2 linked regions of the Homo sapiens genome follow. The protein of the gene in region 1 purifies or fractionates together with the protein of each later gene. This does not show direct contact. Each region holds a gene or a part of one and is shown in the gene's direction. Other genes may lie near its edges.

Region 1 (3,500 bases):
AAAATGCATTTAAAGTCTCTGTTTTGTGGTTTTTTGGATGAATTTTTTTATTTTTTATGACAGGTGTCAGTCTGTTACCCAGACTGGAGTGTAGTGGTGCGGTCACAGTGACAGCTCACTTCAGCCGTGACCTACCAGGCTCAAGCGATCCTCCTGCCTCAGCCTCCTGCGTAGCTGGAAGTGGTCTGAACCACAGGTGTGCACCACCACACCTGGCTCATTTTTTAATTTTTATTTTTTTGCAGAGATGGGGTTTTGGTCTTGAACTCCCGGGCTCTGAGGATTCGCCCTCCTTCACCTCCCAAAGTGCTAGGGTTACAGGAGTGAGCCACCCACCTGGCTGAATTGTTTTTTAAATTATGGTAAAATATGCCTAATATAAAATTTACCATTTCATTTTCCCAAGCTGAAGCTCTTGGGAGCTTCCCCATTGTTAAGCACTGAACCCCATGTCCTCACCCAGCCCCTGGCAATCCCGCTGTGCGCTTGTCTCTGTGCCATCCCCATTGTCAAGCACCGACCCCCGTGTCCTTGCCCAGCCCCTGGCAGTCCCACTGTACGCTTGTCTCCGTGCTTTGGCAACTCCAGGGTCACATAAGAGGAGTCCCGTGGGCTGCGTCCTCTGCAGCTGGGGTCCTTTCCCTCGCCTCAGTCCTCAGGGATCCTCTGTACTGCATCTTGTGTGACAATTTCCTCCTTCTTTAAGGGTGAATAATATTCCACGCATGGGCAGACTACATTTTGTTCATTTATCCATCTATCAGTGGACCCCTGGGCTCTCCTGCCGCACGGCTGTTATGGGTGGCATGGCCGTGAGCCTGGGTATGTGGATTCTGCTGGGTCCCTGCTTTCAGCTGTGGGTTCCTACCCAGAGTGTGGATTCTGCTGGGTCCCTGCTTTCAGCTGTGGGTTCCTACCCAGAGTGTGGGGCTGGGCCCCTGCTTTCAGCTGTGGGTTCCTACCCAGAGTGTGGGGCTGGGTCCCTGCTTTCAGCTGTGGGTTCCTACCCAGAGTGTGGGGCTGGGTCCCTGCTTTCAGCTGTGGGTTCCTACCCAGAGTGTGGGGCTGGGTCCCTGCTTTCAGCTGTGGGTTCCTACCCAGAGTGTGGGGCTGGGTCCCTGCTTTCAGCTGTGGGCTCCTACCTAGAGTGGACTCTGCTGGGTCCCTGCTTTCAGCTGTGGGCTCCTACCCAGAGTGTGGATTCTACTGGGTCCCTGCTTTCAGCTGTGGGCTCCTACCTAGAGTGTGGGGCTGCTGGATCCATGACAGTTCTGTGCTTAGTAATTGGAGCCACCTGGTCAGTTATCTTTCAGGAGCCATGCAGTGGATGGTCCAGTCCCACAGAGCCAATGCCAGGCCACGCAGTGCAGACAGAAAGCTCCCATGCTCTTCTGTCTCCACAATGGAGATGGAGCCATCTCCTTTCCCACAGGATGTTATCAAAACATATCAAGAAACTTAGTGTGGTGGCTCACGCCTGTAATCCCAGCACTTCGGGAAGCTGAGGCAGGCGGATTAGTTGAGCTCAGGAGTTCAAGACCAGCCTGGCCACCATGGCAAAACTCTGTCTTTACAAAACAATACGTAAATTAGCCCAGGCATGGTGGTGTGTGCCTGTAGTCTCAGCTACTCAGGAAGCTGAGGTGGGAGGATCGCTTGAGCCCTGGAGGTCGAGGATGCAGTGAGCCGTGATTGCACCTCTGCACTCCAGCCTGGGTGACAGAGTGAGACCCTGTGTTAAATATATATATAAATATATATATATATATAAAATATATATAAATATATATATAAAATATATATAAAAATATATATAAAATATATATAAAATATATATAAATATATATAAATATATATAAAAATATAAAAATATATAAATATATATAAATATATATATAAATATAGAAAACTCAATAAAAATATTACATATAAATGAACACAGCTGGTCACTCTAGTCTGAAATAGCAAAAATACTAACTTCCCCTTGACTGATTCCATTTTTTGGAATGTTTAGAATTCCAGAAAAAAAAAAAGGCTCTTTTGTAAGAAAACACACAATGAGAAATAATGTGCTCTGAGGCATTGAACTAATGTTGGCCCAAATCTAGTTTTTTGTAAGCAAAGATAAGGCCTGGGGCCAGAGGTCGGAAACAGACTTACAGTATTTTGCAGCCGTTGTGGAGAGACCACAGGCGGTTGGGTTCCTCCAGAGCTGGGTGTACACCCATCTCAGCGTCATGGCTGGCGGGGACTGCTGTGAGTCCATCTTGGAACTTGTGCAGAAAGCGGCTGTCTGCTGGTGACCGCATGGGGTGCCTGGCGAACACCTCTAACAGAGGTAGGGCCAGTGGGAGCAGAAACCAGTGGAGTTGTCAAGCCGGCATTATCCTTCCTGCTCGGCTTGTGTCCAGGGTTAACGCGGAGGTCAGCTTCAGTGAGGCCTGGCACTTGGTCAGCGTGAGGCTTGGTTAGTCTCAGGGACCCACGTGGTATCCGGGTCCCCCAGCACTAAACAGCTTGGCCAAGGCCACACTGTCCTGCCAAGAGATGCCTGGGCGGGACAGTGGGAGGGGTTGGTGCTGAGGAAGGAAGAGGCCGGCAGGGATGCCTCCTGCACACACAAGCTGACAACTCGAGGTTTATTCAGTTCTCAGCTCTCAGCTCTCAGCCGTGTCCTTTATCTCTGAGGAGTCTCAATTTATTCTGTCTCCTTCTGTTTTGGATCTTTGAAATTAGGAAAACACCTCAAAGTTTTGTGTGCATTTCTCTCCACCTGTCACCCTGGGTCCTCGAGGCAGAGTTGCCTCCGCTACGCGCGAGGTCCGAGGTGCAGGAGGCCTGTGCTGGGGGCCGGGAGGAGACGGGCATTGAGGAGGGAGTGCCATGGCCTGGCCACCAGCTCTGGGGTCGCTCTGCTGTCCCTGACTCTGCGGGAAGGACGGTTAGGGCCCCTCTCCGCCCCGAGTTCAGGATCACCCCCTCCTTCCTGGCCCAGTGAGCCTGTCGCTCTGGCTGTGTTGAGTCTGCTGTGCGGCCAGGGTGAAAACCAGTCCGTAAGTCCCAAGTGGAACCCAGGTGGCCACCCTCGGGGCAGCTGGAGGGGTGGGAGGCTTGTGGAACAGAAACCCGTGGGTGATTCCTTCTGAATTTCCCACAGACCTGAACCGGACCTTCCCCGACAACGTGAAGTTCCGGAAGACCACGGACCCCTGCTTACAGAGGACCCTGTACAATGTGCTGCTGGCATATGGGCACCATAACCAGGGAGTGGGCTACTGCCAGGTGAGCCTCGGGACCCTCTGACGCCATGAGGTGGCTGTGAGGACAGGTCTGTCCACAGCTGCAGGCTCGGCAGTGACGGCCTCACGTCTCTGTCAACCCTGTTCATGAATTCCACGTCCTGATGCCCCATTGAGGCTCGGACGCCATTTCCCAGCAGGGAGGACAGGGAGCAGCAGCCGACGACCTCATTCCGGCCTCAGGTGGCGGGAGGAGAATCA
Region 2 (3,500 bases), on another chromosome or scaffold:
ATTTTTAAAAACAACTTTGTAATTTGGCAACACACATGCTTCTTTATTAAGGCATTAATTAGGGAGTTCTCGCAGTGGGTCTAAGCACTATCATAATGTTGAAGCAGTGGTGAGCATAAATTATGCTATTTTGAGAGATCTGCAACAGTGGTAATGTGATAGGAGGAAAGTATCTGTGATTAAATTGGTGACAGTCACAGGTTTTGCTAATACTAATGTGGTCTGTTGACAACATGCATAACTGGAAGGAAATGTCAAACGTCAGCTTGAGAACAAGAAAAGCTGTCGTTTTTTTCTTGGCTATCTCAGTTCTTGGGCTCCTTGCAGGGTCTTCCACTGACCTCAGGCCAAGAACCCCTGCCCTTCACAGAGTTTTGTGGAAGACTACACCCATGAACTAGAAATTGCTGTTCTGAGAAGCAAGGGCTGTGTGGTCAGATCAGGGTGAGAAAGGCTGTAACCTTGGCTCCTGGGCGAGACCCACAACATCTGCTGCTATTTGAAAGCCTTAGAGGAGGCTGACTGTGTAAAGAAGACGGATTCTGCTTTGCCCCAGAGGTTCCCAAGTTTTTTTTCTGACCACAGAACTTTTTTGTCTTGGAACCCATCTTAACCATCTCTCTTCTCGGGAATGAAAAGCCCAGTCTCTGTTGCGTTTGCCCAGGATTCAGGGTAGGCCACTCCTCCTGGGCACTGCGTTCTCCACATCCCTCTAACGCACAGGCCACAAAGCCAGACCACAGGCTCGTGTGACTTGGCTCCTGTCATGTTTCATAAAAATGAATTAATTCTCACGCCTGTAATCCCAGCACTTTGGGAGGCCAAGGTGAGTGGATCACCTGAGGTCAGGAGTTCGGGACCAGCCTGGCCAACATGGCGAAATTCCGTCTCTACTAAAAATACAAAATTAGCTGGGCGTGGTGGCGTATGCCTGTACTCCCAGCTACTCTGGAGGCTGAGGCAGGAGAATCACTTGAACCCAGGAGGCGGAGGTTGCAGTTAGCCGAGATTGCACCAGCCTGGGCAACAAGAGTGAAACTGCATCTCCAAAAAAAAAAAAAAGAATTGCCCATATATTTGAAAGTCAAGAGGCTGGGCATGGTAGTTGCCTGTACTCCCAGCATCATGGTGGGTGCCTGTACTCCCAGCACTTTGGGAGGCCAAGGCAGGAAGATCACTTGAGCCCAGGAGTTCAAAACCAGCCTGGGCAACATAGTGAGACCCAATTTCTACCAAAAAAAAAAAAAAAGAGAGAGAGAGAGAGCAAGAGAGACAGGCATGGTGGCATGTGCCTGTGGCCCCAACTACTTGGGTAGGCTGAGGTGGGAGGATCACTTGAGCCCGGGAGGTTGAGGCTGCAATGAGCTATGATCACACCACTGTACTCCAGCCTGGGCAACAGAGCAAGAACCTATCTTAAAAAACAAAAAGAAAAAGAAAAAGTCAAGAGATTTCATAGGAAGATAACCTGAATTTCTAGCTCTTCCTGCAAAACTGGAAGATCTGGCCACATGCAGCTGGAGCTGTAGATGGTCCAGGTGCCAATAGTTGGGCTGTTTGCCACAGTCCCCACCATACCTTATTGTGTTCCATCTTATTTTATTAACTGGTCTACAGAAGCTCCAGCACAGCACAGCCTGCGGTCACTCGTTTGTGGGTTTTTTTTTGTTTTTTTTTTTTTTTTTGAGTTTGGCTCTTGTCGCCCAGGCTGGAGTGTAATGGCACGATCCTGGCTCACTGAAACCTCTGCCTCCCAGGTTCAAGCGATTCTCCTGCCTCAGCCTCCAGAGTAGCTGGGATTACAGGCGCGCACCACCACACCTGGCTAATTTTTGTATTTTTAGTAGAGACGGTTTCATCATGTTGGCCAGGATGGTCTTGCACTCCTGACAGGTGATCCGCCCACCTCAGCCTCCTAAAGTGCTGGGATTACAGGTGTGAGCCACCTCGCCCAGCCTCAGTAACTATTGTTTTAAGGCTGTTGATAGAGAATGATTGCAACAGCTTGGTGGGAAGTGGGTAGGGTATACGGGGGGGATGAGGAGGGGTGAGTAGGAGGGAAATGGTGGGAAGGTAGGTGTTGGCAGTGCAGGCCTCCCTTGATGCAGGTGCCCACCTTGGGATGGGAAGAGGTGGACATCTGTGTGCCTGCCCTTCTCCCCTGCAGATGTTTATCATTGACAAGGTGGATGGGGACATCTGCCTCCTGAATGAGTTCTCCATCACCGGCTCCACTTACGCTCCAGAGGGAGAGGTGTAAGTCACCCAGGCATCTTCTCCCCAGCTCCTCACGCCCCTTCCCACACCCCCTTTCTCCCTGGGGCCCTCCATGTGGTTTTGCTCTCCTTTCACTCTCCTCTTCCTCCCCGACCTTGTTCTCTCTCCTGATATCCGAGTTGGCTCTCCCCACTGTCCTTCCTTACCCTCTGCTGCCTGCTCTTCCTGTGCCCTCTCTGCATCTCATTCCCTGTTCTTCTCCACTGTCTCTGTCCCTTCCTCCCCTGACCCTGCTGCCAGCTTGAAGAATGATAAGCCAGTCCGGCCAGGGCAGTATGACGGGCTGGTGGAGCTGGCCACCATCTGTGCCCTCTGCAATGACTCCTCCTTGGACTTCAACGAGGTAACCTCTCCTTCCCCTTCCAGTTGGCTCAGAGTCTGGGCCTCCTCCGAAGGCCAGGAGGAAAGGGTTGGAGGAAGGGGACCCAGTACACCCAGCCCTCTGCCAGGGTGCAAGGGAGGCAGTGGTTTGCTTCCTTCTTACGCTAGGTGGAAGGAGGGTATGACAGGTAGGAGCCTGGGGCACCGACTTCCTCTTCCTCCTCTGCCCATCTCAGGCCAAAGGTGTCTATGAGAAGGTCGGCGAGGCCACCGAGACAGCACTCACCACCCTGGTGGAGAAGATGAATGTGTTCAACACGGATGTGAGAAGCCTCTCGAAGGTGGAGAGAGCCAACGCCTGCAACTCGGTGAGCCTGCGGAGCCCCTGCCACAGGGCCGTCTCCACTCTATGCTGCATAGACTAGAGGAAGGCAGAGGCCCTGGTTGGGCAGAGCCTAGTGCCTGTGCTGGGACCCCACCCAGGCAGCAGACAGCCCCTGCAGCTTCTCCACAGGCTGATGTGGGTGGGACCCATTGTCCCTGGGGCTGCCTGGCGGCCATGCCCTTGATGAATCTATGATCACTTCTGCCCGCTGTGTCCTGATTTGAAGTGGACAAAGCTGGACACGGAAACCACAAGGGACCCATCCAGGAGCAGCCCCAACTTCATCTGTTATTCCTTTGTTTCTAGAAGCACACTTGTTTTCAGCAGATGATGAGTCCTGACTTAGGATTTGGGAAATGTGGCTACTGCACCTATAGGGAAAGCCTTTCCTTGCCCAGATGAACCCGGCCACTTCTAGGACTGTCACTCCCAGTTATTGCTATTGATACTTGCTGAACGTCTCCATTAAGCACTTCTCTCTGGGGAATTATATTCCCCACATTTCTCTCTTTCTCTC

The links.
Region 2: the proteins of GRTP1 (region 1) and ATP2A1 purify together in Homo sapiens (affinity purification with mass spectrometry; one large-scale study listed by BioGRID and IntAct). This does not show direct contact.

What each region holds. Positions count from the first base shown.
Region 1 is NC_000013.11:113,350,631-113,354,130, reverse strand, and holds part of GRTP1 (growth hormone-regulated TBC protein 1), read left to right. Parts: intron 1-2,160; exon of another isoform or gene 2,161-2,458; intron 2,459-3,157; coding exon 3,158-3,282; intron 3,283-3,500. UniProt on the Homo sapiens protein: May act as a GTPase-activating protein for Rab family protein(s).
Region 2 is NC_000016.10:28,891,988-28,895,487, forward strand, and holds part of ATP2A1 (sarcoplasmic/endoplasmic reticulum calcium ATPase 1), read left to right. Parts: intron 1-2,167; coding exon 2,168-2,256; intron 2,257-2,517; coding exon 2,518-2,620; intron 2,621-2,834; coding exon 2,835-2,966; intron 2,967-3,500. UniProt on the Homo sapiens protein: Key regulator of striated muscle performance by acting as the major Ca(2+) ATPase responsible for the reuptake of cytosolic Ca(2+) into the sarcoplasmic reticulum.